4 linked regions of the Homo sapiens genome follow. The protein of the gene in region 1 interacts with the protein of each later gene in a pairwise test. Each region holds a gene or a part of one and is shown in the gene's direction. Other genes may lie near its edges.

Region 1 (3,500 bases):
TATTTTTAGTAGAGACGGGGTTTCACCATGTTAGCTAGGATGGTCTCGATCTCCTGACCTTGTGATCCACCTGCCTCGACCTCCCAAAATGCCGGGATTACAGGCGTGAGCCACCGCGCCTGGCCACACCCAGCTAATTTTTAAATCATTTGTAGAGAGAAGGTATCACTATATTGTTCAGGCTGGTCTTGAACTCCTGGGCTCAAGCAATCCTCCTACCTCGGCCTCCCAAAGTGCTGGGATTACAGGTGTGAGCCACCGCGCCCAGCTGAACCTCAGTCTTTAGAACCTTGGAATCCTAGATTCATAACGTGCTTAGCATGGAATTCTAAAACTGTAGAACCTGAGAATTCTAGAATCAGAACCATAGCATTCAAGAATTCCGAATGATAGAATTCAGCTAAAATAACAACAGAACTTTAGATTACACATCTTAGATCTCCCAAGTTATAGACTCTCAGAGCATGAGAATTTTGGAACCATGGGATTTGAGGGTAATAGAAACATAGGCACATCAAATTTGAGAGTCTTAGACGTCTAGAATCATATAAGCTTGAAACCATCGTAACCTAGAATCCTGGAAATTCTAGACTCCCAGAACTTTGAACAATCAAATTCTAGAATCCAGCCAGGTGTGGTGGCTCATGCATGTAATCTCAGCACTTTGGGAGGCCAAGGTAGGTGGATCACTTGAGCCTAGGAGTTTAAGACCAGCCTGGGCAACATGGTGAAACCCTGTCTCTACAAAAAAAATTAAAAATTAGCCAGGCATGGCAGCATGCATCTGTGGTTCCAGCTACTTGGGACTCTGAGGAGGGAGGATTGCTTGAGCCCAGGAGGTTGAGGCTGCAGTGAGCCATGATTGTGCCACTGCATTCCAGCCTGGGTGACAGAGCAAGAACTTGTCTCAAAAAAAGAAAAAAAAAAATTCTAGAACCTCAGAAGCCTAGATCCACATAAACTTAGAAACATCCAATTCAAGAATTTACTGGAACAATCAAATTCTAGAATCTTAGAAGCCTAGAGCTAAAGAAGCATAGAAACATCAAATTCTAGAATCTTGTATGTATAGAATCCTAGAACCTTGGAATCTGCAGATTCTGGAGGTAGAGAAGCCTAGAATTGTAGAACCCTAGAACTGTCAAATTTTAGAGTTTAGATATATAACACCCTAAAATCTTGGACATTAAAGAGTCTTAGAAGTGTTGACTCATAGATGTCTAGAGTTCTAGAAACTTGGACATCAAACTCTGAAGCCTTAGAAATACGGAATCAGGTCAGGGGCAGTAGCTCACACCTGTAATCCCAGCACTTTGGGAGGCTTAGGTGGGTGGATTGCTTGAGCCCAGGAGTTCAAGACCAGCTTGTACAACATGGAAAGACCCCATCTCTACAAAAAATACGAAAAATTAGCCAGGCATGGTAGTGCGTGCCTGTAGTTTCAGCTACTCAGGAGGCTGAGGTGGGAAGATCGCTTGAGCCTGGGAGGCAGAGGTTGCAGTGAGCCGAGATGGTGCCATTGCACACTCTAGTCTGGGTGACAGCCAGACTGTTTCTTAAAAAAAAAAAAAAAAAACAAAAAACAGAATCATAGAACCTTCATAAAATAGGTTTTTAGTAAACTCTAGAATCTTCGATGTATAGTGTCCCTAGAACCGTGGAAACACTGAACTCTACAGCAATGGTTCTCGACCAGGGGCCGTTTTGCTCCTAGGGGATGTTTGGCAAGGGTTGGAGATGGTTTTGTTTGGTACGCTGGGATAGTGCTACTGGCATCCAGTAGGTAGAAGTCAGAGATGCAGCTAAACATCCTACAATACACAGAGCAAGTGCCCTAAAACAAGGAATTATCCTGGGCACTGTGTTAGTGTCACGGGTTGAGGAACCCAGCCCTAGGGTGTTCAGAGTCTGGAGTCACAGCACATTAGAACCAATAACACACACACACACACACACACACAAGTCGGGCGCGGTGGCTCACGCCTGTAATCCCAGCACTTTTAGGAGGCCAAGGCAGGTGGATCATCTGAGGTCAGGAGCGCGAAACCAGCCTGACCAACATGGCGAAACCCCGTCTCTACTAAAAACACAAAAAAATCAGCTGGGCGTGGTAGTGGGCGCCTGTAGTCCCACGCCCAGCTAATTTTTGTATTTTTAGTAGAGACGAGGTTTTACCATGTAGGGCAGGCTGGTTTCGAACTCCTGACCTCAAATGATCTGCTCTCCCCGGCCTCCCAAAATACCGAGATTACAGGCGGGAGCCACTGCACCCAGCAGTCGTCGGGATTTTGAGTCTAGCCCTCCTACTTAATCAAGACCCCCCCGATGGTTGGGAAAACTGTGGCTGAAAGTGGGAAAATGACCAGGGCAGCAGCAGCCAGTGTTCTTACCCAGACAGCAAGAGTAGACTCTTTTGAGCCTGAGGCTTAGGGTCAAGGTTCAAGCCTTCCAGGTAACCTCTCTTCCCCTTCTCACCCGTTCCCTTGTTCCCTGTCCTACCAGACTGCAAGTTTAACTGTCACAAACGCTGCGCCACCCGCGTCCCTAATGACTGCCTGGGGGAGGCCCTTATCAATGGAGGTGAGAGGCTGGGGGGATGCTGGGGAGAAAGGGGAAGGGGCAGGACTGGGTGGAGACCCCTCTGATGCCTCCGTCCCCACAGATGTGCCGATGGAGGAGGCCACCGATTTCAGCGAGGCTGACAAGAGCGCCCTCATGGATGAGTCAGAGGACTCCGGTGTCATCCCTGGCTCCCACTCAGAGAATGCGCTCCACGCCAGTGAGGAGGAGGAAGGCGAGGGAGGCAAGGCCCAGAGGTATACACAGAACCCTCCAAGAGACCCTGGGGGAAGACCCTCCTGCACAGTGAACCTCAATTTCTTTTTCTCTACAATGGGCTGACATCACCTCATATTTATAAATTTTCCCAGTTCCTGAGGCAAACCTTTTAAAGCACTACAATTTTTTTTAAATAATTTTTTGTTTGAGACAGGGTCTCGGTCTGTCGCCCAGGCTGGTGCAGTGGTGCAGTCTTGACTCACTGCAGCCTCGACCACCTGGGCTCAAGCGATCCTGCCACCTTAGCCTCTCGAGTAGCTGGGACCACAGGCTCGTCCACCACACCCAGCTAATTTTTGTATTTCTGTAGAGACAGGGTCTACCCTATGTTGCCCAGGCTGGTCTTGAACTCCTGACTCCTGAGCTCAAGTGATCCACCCGCCTCAGCCTCCCAAAGGGTCTTGCTTTGTTGCCCACTGGAGTGCAGTGGTGTGATTGTGGCTCACTGTAACCTCAAACTCCTGGGCTCAGGTGATCCTCCTGCCTCAGCCTCCCGAGTATCTGGGACTACAGGGATGCACTGCTATCCCTGGCTAATTTTAGACGGCGTTTCGCTCTTGTTGCCCAGGCTGGAGTGCAGTGATGCAATTTCAGTTCATTGCAACCTCTGTCTCCTGGGTTCAAGCGATTCTCCTGCCTCAGCCTCCCAAGTAGCTGGGACT
Region 2 (3,500 bases), on another chromosome or scaffold:
TCAAGTGCTGGGATTACACGCCTGAGCCACTACAGCTGGCCAAGATTTGATTAAAAAAAAAAAAAAAAATCAGACACCTAAATCCTTTTGTCCATAAAATGATTTTAAACTTAAGATTTTCATCAATAGCAGACTCCCCTCTGATATCTTATTTAATCCAGCCCTTCAGAAGGACAACGTTTTTGTTTATTGTTTATTTTTTTTTGAGATGGAGTCTCGCTCTGTCACCCAGGCTGGAGTACAGTGGCATGATATCGACTCACTGCAACCTCCGCCTCCTGGATTCAAGCAATTCTGGCACCTCAGCCTCTCATGTAGCTGGGATTTACAGGCGTGCGCCACCATGCCCAGCTAACTTTTTGTATTTTTAATAGAGATGGGGTTTCACCATGTTGGCCAGGCAGGTCTTGAACTCCTAATCTCAAGTGATCCACCTGCCTCGGCCTCCCAAAGTGCCGGGATTACAGGCGTGAGCCACTTTGCCTGGCCAGGACAACTTTTCTCTAAAGCACATCATGTCAGGTATGAAAAGGTTAATCTATTTGGGGTCAGAGCTACTATTTTCAAGTTTTATACTTCATTCTGTTTAAATTTTGTTCATAATTCGAAAACTGCTGTTATAAATTATGCAAAATTCTACATTAAATGCTTAAAGTGTAACCCATTTATTAATGAATTCTGAATAATCGACTTTTTTGGGGCCTCTTACTAGATACTCTGCTAAGCTTTTTACAAATATTGTCTTATTTAATTCTTAAAACAATTTTTTGGCTGGGTGTGGTGGCTTATGCCTATAATCCCAGCACTTTGGGAGGCCAAGGTGGGAAGATTGCTTGAGGCAAGAGTTTGAGATGAGACCCCATCCCTACAAAAGAAAAAAATTATCTGGGCGTGGTATTGGTGTCTGTAGTCCTAGATAATCAGGAAGCTGAGGCGGAGGATTACTTGAGCCCAGGAGGTCAGGGCTCCTGTGAGCCATGATTGTGCCACTGCACTCCAGCCTGGGCAACAGAGTGAGACCTTGTCTCAAACAAACAAAAGAGAACAATTTTTTGAGTTGTGTAAGTCCTGTTGTTCTCATTTTACAGATGAGGAAAGTGAGACTTAGGGGATTTTAAGTAACAAGCCCAACATTGCATGTTTAGCAAGTATAACAGAGCTGGGTTGTTAACTTATACAGTATGACTGTAGGTCTTTCAATTTAGTTGTTGTACTATATTCTCCTTTTATTATAAAATCATAAAATAATTGAATTTCTGTGCTGAAAAGGACCTCACACATTATCCAGTCTAACCCCTTCACTCATTAAGTTCATGAACATAGAGATTGAGATTTGAATTTGGCCAAGTAATAGAGTTAGGGATAGACCCAGGATACTCTGACTGCTAGTTTGTGCTTATTCTGATTCTGGTGTATTACTTCACTAGGCCTAGAACTGGTAATAAGAGAACCTCTATTCTAGTTCCACTCTTTAAGGACATGGAGCAGTGTCATAGATGTAGTTTGTGCTCATTAATTATTTGTTCTAATGAACAAATGAATGAGCTCTTTTAAATGATGTGATTATTGGCAATACCTGATTTATGAGTAGGGCCTCTTCGTAAGAATTTTCCTTGTTGGCCTCCTAAGTAAAAAAATTACCCTAAACTTACTAGTAGTTAAGGAAGAAAAGCTCCACAAAGTTCAGCTCCAAGAACGTGACAAAATCTAAAGTAATGAGCCCAAGTGATAGTCCATTTATATAGCATTTATTGTTTGGGTTTGGCTCATTTTTATATCATCAAGGATATATGGTATAGTAGAGTAATCCAGAAAAGAGAACATATTGTATGGGCATAGGATGCTAAAAAAGCTCAGTAGACAATTCTGGCCTTCTCTGTTACATAGATTATCTGACTCCAGAAAAAGAACGCGTACAGGAAGATCTTGGCCTGCTGCAATACCACATTTGCGGAGAAGAAGAGGTCGTCTTCCAAGAAGAGCACTCCAGACTCAGAACTCAGAAATTGTAAAAGATGATGAAGGCAAAGAAGATTATCAGTTTGATGAACTCAACACAGAGATTCTGAATAACTTAGCAGATCAGGAGTTACAACTCAATCATCTAAAGAACTCCATTACCAGTTATTTTGGTGCTGCAGGTAGAATAGCATGTGGCGAAAAATACCGAGTTTTGGCACGTCGGGTGACACTTGATGGAAAGGTGCAGTATCTTGTGGAATGGGAAGGAGCAACTGCATCCTGACTGTAGGACTGAACATTATGTTCACTGCACTCTGATTTTCTGTAGGTACAGTTCAAAGCCCTAAAGGAGTCTGGCTTTTACTATCTTTCTTAAAAAAAAAAAAAAGTCAAAAAAATTCAAAAAAGGGGATGATACTAGCCTTAACATGTACCTGTCAATGTTATGGATATTGTCATAAAAAGGTATCTTTTAAAAATCAGAACAGAGACTTAATTTTTTAAATCTTAAGATTTGTAGAATGTTTCTAGGATAGGATATTAAAAATGATTGAAACCCATGCATGGTGTTAGACAATTTTTCTAATTATTCCATTGAGTCAGTTTTTTGTGATTAGTGATTATCAGAGCAAACATCATGTAGATAGCACAAGTATTTGGAGAAACGTTGTTTGTTTTGTTACCAAAATGTTGGAAAAATTTATTTCAATACCTTTTAGATTTCATAAAGTGCAGTGTATATAATGCCTACTGAAAGACTGTAAAATATTGAAATTTTCTTTCAAGCAAAGTGTAAAAAAATATATTGAGCCTGTAAATTGCTCTGTGACTAGACTTCATTGTCGTCTTAATATATTCTTGCATGTGCATATATATACACACGTGTATATATATGTGTGTGATTATGTGACCTATGCAATACAAATTATGGGAATGGGCAGCTTTGGAGTATATATCCCATAATTCTTTTTTCAGGAATAGTTGCAGTATTTACACAGCAGCATTTCTTCTCAGGCTTTTATTGGGTGCTGTTGCTTGCTATGTATGAAGAGAAATGTGTCAGACAAGTTTAGTGTGTTCTGAAGAAGGGTGTGAACAACAGTGTTCATGGGCTTTTAGAATGCTTTTCACTTTTAGTCCTTGTAACTCAGCTGTTCAGTACCTAAAACAAATTCAAATAATATGAACATTATCTCCTACTAGAAGTAACGTTTTCAAGTTTTCATGGCACATTATGATTGTAAATGTCTCTCATTTTTAACAGTAAGTCTATAGGAGTCCCGTGAAGATTCCTGAAATGTCTGTAGTAACTGTTAGTCATGTTTGAATAAGTGTAGTATGAACAAAGTATTTTATTGCACAGGGTTAACAAACAGTATGTTGCCAGCTGAGGCTACTGCTGTTTTATTACAACATTACCTCTTGTTTTTATAAAGTGTACCAAGATTTAAATTGATAACTTTATTTTACTTGTAAAAAAAAAGTTTCTTTTATCACCAGTGTTACAGTTGTCTTCTGTTTCTTTTTGTTTTGTTTTA
Region 3 (4,012 bases), on another chromosome or scaffold:
AATATGCGTTTAATTATGTGGTGGGATGTGTGTAGGTGTATGATGAGAGAGGCAACCAACATGGCTATTTGGGGTGCAAGGATGTGGGAACAGGCAAGTAATTTTCACATTGGACTTTCATCCTAGGGAGCTGGGTTCTAGTCACAGCTCTGAGCTGTGTGACCTTGGGTAGGTCTCATCTCCCCGGGGTTTTGTTTCACCAGTTGAACAGTATGAGGATGAGTCACAGCTAACATTTGTTCCATGATATTTACCCAGCACCATACAAGTGTTATTTCTGTCCTCCCAGTTAACACTGACGTGGGTAGTATTATATGCCCATTTTACAGATGAGGAAACTGAAGCCTGAAGAAGTTAAATACTTATCCCAGAACACACAGCTGGTAAGTGGCAGACCTGGAATTGGAATCTAGTTCAGTTTGATTCCCCAACCCATGCTCTTGACCACTATACTGTTTTTTCAAGTCCAGATCTGAAATCTCATTTTCTGTGTGGCTGTGTGTTTGGGACAGGGGTAACCAATTCCTGACTACTCTATATGCTGCATAGAACCTGGAGAGGATTTTTCAAAGTAAATGAATCTCGAAAGCTGGATTGCAGAGCAAACGAGTGCAGTCAATTCAGCCAGGGGCTTGCAAGAGGGAGAAAGAGAAAAAGACTGTGGAATGGAAAGTTTCCCAACCCAAGCCTTTCCCAAGGGGTAGCCATTCTCTGTTCTACAGTTTAGGGCTTGCATGTGCTTTTTCTGGAGTGGAAAAATACATAAGTTATAAGGAATTTAACAGACAGAAAGGCGCACAGAGGAATTTAAAGTGTGGGCTGGGGGGCGAGGCGGTGGGCGGGAGGCGAGCGGGCGCAGGCGGAACACCGTTTTCCAAGCTAAGCCGCCGCAAATAAAAAGGCGTAAAGGGAGAGAAGTTGGTGCTCAACGTGAGCCAGGAGCAGCGTCCCGGCTCCTCCCCTGCTCATTTTAAAAGCACTTCTTGTATTGTTTTTAAGGTGAGAAATAGGAAAGAAAACGCCGGCTTGTGCGCTCGCTGCCTGCCTCTCTGGCTGTCTGCTTTTGCAGGGCTGCTGGGAGTTTTTAAGCTCTGTGAGAATCCTGGGAGTTGGTGATGTCAGACTAGTTGGGTCATTTGAAGGTTAGCAGCCCGGGTAGGGTTCACCGAAAGTTCACTCGCATATATTAGGCAATTCAATCTTTCATTCTGTGTGACAGAAGTAGTAGGAAGTGAGCTGTTCAGAGGCAGGAGGGTCTATTCTTTGCCAAAGGGGGGACCAGAATTCCCCCATGCGAGCTGTTTGAGGACTGGGATGCCGAGAACGCGAGCGATCCGAGCAGGGTTTGTCTGGGCACCGTCGGGGTAGGATCCGGAACGCATTCGGAAGGCTTTTTGCAAGCATTTACTTGGAAGGAGAACTTGGGATCTTTCTGGGAACCCCCCGCCCCGGCTGGATTGGCCGAGCAAGCCTGGAAAATGGTAAATGATCATTTGGATCAATTACAGGCTTTTAGCTGGCTTGTCTGTCATAATTCATGATTCGGGGCTGGGAAAAAGACCAACAGCCTACGTGCCAAAAAAGGGGCAGAGTTTGATGGAGTTGGGTGGACTTTTCTATGCCATTTGCCTCCACACCTAGAGGATAAGCACTTTTGCAGACATTCAGTGCAAGGGAGATCATGTTTGACTGTATGGATGTTCTGTCAGTGAGTCCTGGGCAAATCCTGGATTTCTACACTGCGAGTCCGTCTTCCTGCATGCTCCAGGAGAAAGCTCTCAAAGCATGCTTCAGTGGATTGACCCAAACCGAATGGCAGCATCGGCACACTGCTCAATGTAGGTTTATTTTTTTCCCTTCTTCTACCAAGAAAAAAAAAATTGTCTCTCTTGCATGCAATAAAGACGTTGGAAATAAACTGCATTGGTAGCAAGACAAAGGATTTAATGATTTAATGCTGAAGGGGTGTGATATGCTGGCATGCATATTGATTCCCTTTGCTGAAAATTTCCTGTTAGATGTTTTCTTCCCAAATAACCCCTCCCGCCCCCATGCTCCTCTCCTTACCAACCTTATAGTCTCTTGAAAACAGTTTTTAAAATATGCATAAAAATGTGGGGGGTGGGGAGTAGAGGGTGACCACAAGACTTTAAAACATTCTTCAAGTAGGGCAATTTGACACATTTTGCAGTTTTTACTAAAATGTATGCAGAGTGGAATTTAACTTTGCTGTTCTTTGGATTAGCTACTAGTTGTATAGGTCCCCCCACCCCTTGTGTATTCCAACAGTCCAAAGTAATTAAAATATGACATTTTCCTTGAAAGGAATTTAGTTTAATTAAGGTGGCTGCTGCTCCCGAAGTTCATAAACCACCAGTTCAAGCTGCCGCTTCCAATGTTTTCCTTGCTAAGGAAAGGCAATATTTCTTAGCATTGACCCTGCTGCCACCTTTCCAAGTCACTTTGTTGGTCTAAGAAGTTGCTGTTTTGCTAGAAAACTACTGGCAATGAACACCCCTTGGACTGAGCCATCCATTATTTCCATATCTTGCAGTTCAGCCCGGAACGTGGACATCAGTTAAAGGAAAGGAAATATAAGTGGGGTAGCCCAATTTAAAAAAAAAATATTGACTATTTTGTTATCTGATGCTGACACAGTGCCGAGGTACGCACCTGGTCAACAGTAGCCTGGCTGCAGGCTTGAGAAATGATCAGGAGTCCCAGAAAATCCCACCTTCGGGTGGCTGTAGTGGGAGCCTGCAGGATGCTTCGCCGCCCTGACAGTGATTTAGATAAATGGCTCAGCTATCTATCAAAATGTTTTTAGTACTTTATTTGACAATTCATTGGAGCATTAGCCTGAAAATGACATTTTAAATCTTTGTTTTCAAAGAGGTCAAAGTTTAACTGGAAGAAATTGAGTTTTCCTAATAACATGGTGGCTTATCTAAAGAGAGAAGAAAAAGGGGAGAGGGGACAATGACAGGATTTAAATTGCCCTCTCTGAAACTTTTTCTTAAGAATAAAGACTTGCTTCTTGGGCCGGGAAATCAACAGGTTTGTAGCTGAAAAATCAATAACCATTTGATGCCAACAGCCTGGCTGTCTGACTTAACATTTTGTAGAGCCATAAGCAGGGCAAAAAGAATATCGTTTTCAGAAGGCGCCTTAATCTTCAGCTGCTCCCCAAATGCCTTTTCTTTTTTGGTGCCCATTTTATTTCTGGAGAACTCAAAGAAACTGGAGTGTTACAAAATAATTTTCTAATCCAAGAAGAGACTTTTCAGACCTGTCCTCTTTGTAGCAATTAAAACAGTATGAACAATTTCTGTTGGAATCCCAGGGAACTGGGGCTCTCTGAAACTTTTTCTTGTTAGAGAAAGTGGTAATGAAACATGTTTTTTAACAGAAGGAAAAAATATGCTCAGGATCCTCGCCAAAAGTTATTAGACCTAATAGAGTTTTTACATGTAGACATTCTTCCTTTTGTAATTAACCTTCCAAAGATGCCTATTAAGTTGTAAGAGTAGGGGGAAAAGCTTTGTTTGTTCTTGGACAAGTTAAACAAGGGATTTGCTTTATCTAGGGAGAGCGAGCGGTGAATGTGTCATTCGCCTAAAACTACCCGATAAGCAAGAAGTGTTGATAACAGCAAAGTTTAGCTAATCAAAGAAACTTGCATTAGACAAAGTAAATAAAGGCATTTGACAAAGGGATTTCAGAAATTCCAGTGTCTTATTTTTGTAAGCAGGGCAATTAGTTCTTATTGTGGTCAGTTTCACAAGAGTTTGAATCCCACACCCCAACTTTAGGTTAAATGAATAAAATGTAAATATTGCTTGTGCCCTTGCAGAGTTGCTTTACCCTCATAAACCACTTTATGATGGTCAGTTGTTCCAACGATTTTTTTTTTTTTTTAGCATAAATAAAACTAAAACTTTTTTTTTTTTTTTTTTTTAGAGATTCTAACAAATGTCTTGTGCCATGCAGTGTTTGGTTCAGGGTGGTACAG
Region 4 (4,297 bases), on another chromosome or scaffold:
CATGTTCAGAAAGGTTAGATGGCCCAGCCCTGGTCAAGTAGGACTCATTGGTAGCAATTGCCAGCCAGAAGCTGGGATTCTTGACTTTCATTTGAAGCCGGGTCTCACTGCTGGAAAATGACTGAGTGTTCCAGAGTTAATCCAGGTTAATTCCTGCTGATTAATCATTAATGGGCTAAGGAACCGCCAAGATTAAAAATAGGAATGAACAGTTTAATTTCAACCCAATCGCTCTTTATTCCCCATGAAGGCTTGTATTTTTCACATCTTTCTAACAACAGCTAGTACAGTACTAGTGACAAATGGGGACAGGGAAGATTGAAAATTGTCCAAGAAATAGATGTTAGGCACGGGATTCTGCAGCAACAGGAGCTAGGGAAGTGATGGGGGGCAGTCTAGGCAGCCTTTGGTCGCTCAGAATCCAAAATTCCAAAGAAGCTGGCTTTGGCTCAAGTTCAAAGGGTTGGCTTTAAGAGACGCTGACATAATGGTTAAAAATCAAGCCTAAAATTATTTTAATTTAAAGACTTGACTAATTATGAAGACTGAGTGTTGGCTGATATTGGGGAGAAAGTCAGGGAATGAGGAAGTACCAGTTGCTCCGTTTTGTGGGACACGGATGAGTTTTCTTAGGTTAGAACCTCTCACCTTCCCCAACGCATGGAATAAAACGCCACAGAGTGGATTGTAATTATTGCTCTGCCGGCTGTGATTTGGTTGAGTATCTTAAATAGACCGTGCCTCAGTTGTACCCTCCCTAACAACGAGGGCGATGACATCCGCTTCAATTCCTCGTGCACCTTCTGGCTCTTCCACCCCAATTCCTCCATTTACTGAAGGAAATTCCTTCTGGTGCTGATTGCAATCTCTTTGATGATAAGAACTTGCTCTCCCTGGGCTGACCCCCAGCAGAGCTTGTCCTCATACCCGGCGGCCCGAGGGGGCGCTGCTTCGGGGGAAGTTAGTTGGGTTTAAATAAAGCAGCTTCCTTGGCTGTTCGCGGTTGCGCAACCCTGTTCAGCCACCGCCATGTCAGCCCAGCGGTATCCAGAGGCGCAGGCCCGGGGTCGCCGGGACCCGAACCTTCTGCTTCCCGCCTAGGCAGAGCCGGATCCTAGTCAGAGACTGCTGGGAGCGCCGCGGGCCCAGAGTGGGCGGAGCTGGCCGGAGACCCCCCCCTCGGTGGGCGGGGCGTTCCTGCTCCGCCCCGCCCCGCGCACGGCCGAGCGCCGCGCCGCTCGGCCCCGCCTCTCCCCAGCCCTGCCCCCTTCACCTCCCCGCAGCTCCTCCCCTCTCCCATTGGCCGAGGTGGAGACCCTCCTCTCTGCCCAATGGCCGCCGCCGCGGCTCGGCCACCCGCGTCCTGACTGGCCAGCGACCGGCAGAGTGGCGGGGTGCGGACCAATGGGAAGAGGCGGCTCGATGAATGGCTGGCCCGGGTGGGGAAGGCAGGAGGCGGCGATCCCGGCGGAGGGGGCCGTTCGCCAGCTCTGAGGCAGAAAGTGCCACGACTCCACACGCGCGCACGCAGCCAGCGAGCGGCCGGAGCGGACGGCAGACGGGGCGGGCGGCGTCAGGGTCGCAGCGTCTACAGCTGCTCGGGGGCGGTTTCTTGGCGGAGGCTTGGCCGGCTCCTCTCTCCCGGCTCCGCGGCGGCTGCGAAGGCGGCGGCTCCTGCCCTCTCGCTTTCCCTCTCGCGTCTCTGGCTGCAGGTAAGAAACTTGGCCGGGCCCTGCAGCGGCCGCGCGCGGGCCGGGCCGTCGGGGGGCCGGGGCCGGCCGCGCTGCGCCGCGAGTGACACGTCTCCTCGGCGGCCCCTCCCCCGGCCCGCCCGCCGCCCGCCGCCTGCCGCCGCGGCCGTGCACCATCGGGGTCGGGGTCGGACTCGGGGCGGGGGTGCCGGGCAAGCGCCGTACCGGGGCGTAGGCAGGGCGCGCCCCGTGGTGTGGACCCCGCGGCCCTCGCCGTCCGGGGAGCTGCGGCGGCAGACGGGCGCGACGTGGCGACCGCTCCCTGCCTCCCTCCCTCCCGGCAGGGCCGTCGGGCCGGCCAGCGCGCTCCGAAGTTGGGCGAAGAAAGTTGGCGGCGGGGCGGGGCGGGGCGGCGCACAGCTGGCGGAGGAAGGGGTTAAGTTTCGGGAAGCCGCCGGATGACGTTGCCGGGCTGGAGTCCGGGCCGGAGGGGTGGGGTGCGGGCGGAAGGCGGCGGAGGCCGGCCGAGGGGAGGAGGGCGGGATTGAATGGGGGCCCACGGGCCGAGCGCGCCGGTCCCGGGCCGCGGCCCGCTGGCGCTTCGCGGGGCTGGGACGGCCCCCGACGGGGCGGGCCGGGGCCGCAGGGCTCGCGGCGCAGGGACCGGGTCTGTCCATGGCACGGACGCCGGGCGGCCGCGGTGGCAACTTCCCGGAGTGCGGGAGGCGGCTCCCTGCTCCCCCTGGCGGCGGGGCCGGGGCCACCGTTTCCCCGGCTGGGCTGCGCGGAGCCTGGCTCGAGGGCTCCCGGCGGGGGGACGAGGGCGCCCGGGGCCCGGCCCGCCCCGCCCGCGGCCACGATGAATGGGCCGGCGGTGCCAGCCCCGGGCGGAAGCGGACACCTCCGGGCCGGCCAAGCGCGCTGGCACCCGGCCTGGTGCCCGCCCCGGCCCGGCCGGCTCTCCCGCTGCGCCCTGATTAGGGGAGGCAGGCCGGGGTCTGCGCTTCCAGTGGGGCGCCCGCAGTGCTTCAGGGACCCCTCTCCGAATGATAAGTCGCGAGTTTTAGCTCTAGAGTGCCCCGGCTGGCGAGGGTGACCCCGACCAAGTTGTTTCGTTCGGGGTCTCCATTTCCTGGTCTGCAAATCGGGGCTCCTGTTAGCTTCGATTTGCGAGGAAAGCTGTGGAGACCCAGCACTTGTAGGAAGGAGCCACAAGTGTTGGCTGTTCAGTTGGGATGCTTTTGTTGGGGGGTGCTGGACACGGGAGGAAGGTGGGGCCTGGCTCCGGCACTGCGGCGGGCGCGGGGCTGCAGAAGTTGCACAGCCGGGGTTCTACACCCCGGACCACGTACTGGCCGCCTACTCGCAGGTCCCATAGCCCCTCTGAATCCTAGTTTCTTATCTGTGGCCTGAAGACAGCACCACCCACTCACAGGGTCGGGAACCACGCCGGGAAGTGCTGGGACCTTGTACAAACAGAAGGCAATTTGGCAATTACTCTGAGAGGTCAGAGGTTAGGAGAGACTGGGAAGCACCAAGGAAATGAAACTCTGAGGGACCTGAGGAGCCTCCCACGTCACTGCTCAGCTATTCACTCTGCGTGCTGGAACCTTCAGGGTAGGGGCCATCTGGATGGCATTTTCAGGAATTTGGAGAAATGGGCCTGGTAGGGCCTCATATCTCACATTAGATACCTCTTCAGAACTGGGTGTCCCCAGAGACCCAGGACGTCTGTCTGGCACTCCCAGGAAGAACAACTGCGAATGTTACCCCGCCCTGTGCAGCTGGGGGGCATTCTCCCACTGCCCCGCCTCCCTCCTCACACTCCTTGTTTGATTTAACTTCCTGTTAATCCGACACCTAGAGAAATCTGTGACCCTGCAGCATGTCACTTACTGTGTGATGTCTTGACTCGTTTACGAACTTGCCAAAGGTCACTCCCACTATCATATGCCAACCTCTTTCCCTTCCAGAAAGAAGCTTCCGGTTCTGAGGTCCTGGAGGTGCCATTTCCCTCTCTGTTGAAGCAAAGGCCGGGGCAGACCTCCTAGTAGGTGAAGTTTTCCTTTTACATGGAGCACCGCAAAGCCGGCTTGCAGGGATCTTGGGCCAGTGGAGGCCTGGAGGAGGCTAAGGTTGGGGGAGGGGAAACCAGAAAGGGATCTTGGGGTTTAGGAGAGGGTTTAGAGCTCTAGGCACTATAACAACTCTCACCTTTCATACTTAGGAATCTGCCTCTGAACATTTACAGAGAGATTAAGAAGTTACAGTGGTTCATGGTATATGAGTATTTTTTGGTGATGGAAGAGTTTTAAATAAATCTTAAATCAAGTCACATTTGAGCAATTATGCTCTTTAATGAAATGAGCCCTAACTCAACAGGCTGCAATAATTACATAGCAGCAAACTCAGTTTAAATGGTTGAATGCCAGTGATTGAATTGGAGTATTGATTTATTATGTAGCAGGGACACCTTTTAAAAGTGTCGGGACCCCAGACTCTTCTTGTCTTTTTAGCCCTGGGAATTTTAACTAATAGATGAATGACACATAGAGGATCAACAGTTCTGTTGAGACAGCAAGTTTTTCTTTGCTAAAATCTTGTTT

The links.
Region 2: the proteins of PRKD2 (region 1) and MTF2 interact in a two-hybrid assay, tested with the Homo sapiens proteins (one large-scale study listed by BioGRID and IntAct).
Region 3: the proteins of PRKD2 (region 1) and RARB interact in a two-hybrid assay, tested with the Homo sapiens proteins (one large-scale study listed by BioGRID and IntAct).
Region 4: the proteins of PRKD2 (region 1) and RRBP1 interact in a two-hybrid assay, tested with the Homo sapiens proteins (one large-scale study listed by BioGRID and IntAct).

What each region holds. Positions count from the first base shown.
Region 1 is NC_000019.10:46,700,115-46,703,614, reverse strand, and holds part of PRKD2 (serine/threonine-protein kinase D2), read left to right. Parts: intron 1-2,502; coding exon 2,503-2,580; intron 2,581-2,662; coding exon 2,663-2,816; intron 2,817-3,500.
Region 2 is NC_000001.11:93,134,783-93,138,282, forward strand, and holds part of MTF2 (metal-response element-binding transcription factor 2), read left to right. Parts: intron 1-1,887; coding exon 1,888-2,245; 3' UTR 2,246-3,500. UniProt on the Homo sapiens protein: Polycomb group (PcG) protein that specifically binds histone H3 trimethylated at 'Lys-36' (H3K36me3) and recruits the PRC2 complex, thus enhancing PRC2 H3K27me3 methylation activity.
Region 3 is NC_000003.12:25,427,051-25,431,062, forward strand, and holds the start of RARB (retinoic acid receptor beta), read left to right. Parts: upstream 1-1,212; 5' UTR 1,213-1,471; coding exon of another isoform or gene 1,472-1,481; 5' UTR 1,482-1,681; coding exon 1,682-1,838; intron 1,839-4,012. UniProt on the Homo sapiens protein: Receptor for retinoic acid. Retinoic acid receptors bind as heterodimers to their target response elements in response to their ligands, all-trans or 9-cis retinoic acid, and regulate gene expression in various biological processes.
Region 4 is NC_000020.11:17,679,443-17,683,739, reverse strand, and holds the start of RRBP1 (ribosome-binding protein 1), read left to right. Parts: upstream 1-1,497; 5' UTR 1,498-1,712; intron 1,713-3,664; 5' UTR 3,665-3,741; intron 3,742-4,297. UniProt on the Homo sapiens protein: Acts as a ribosome receptor and mediates interaction between the ribosome and the endoplasmic reticulum membrane.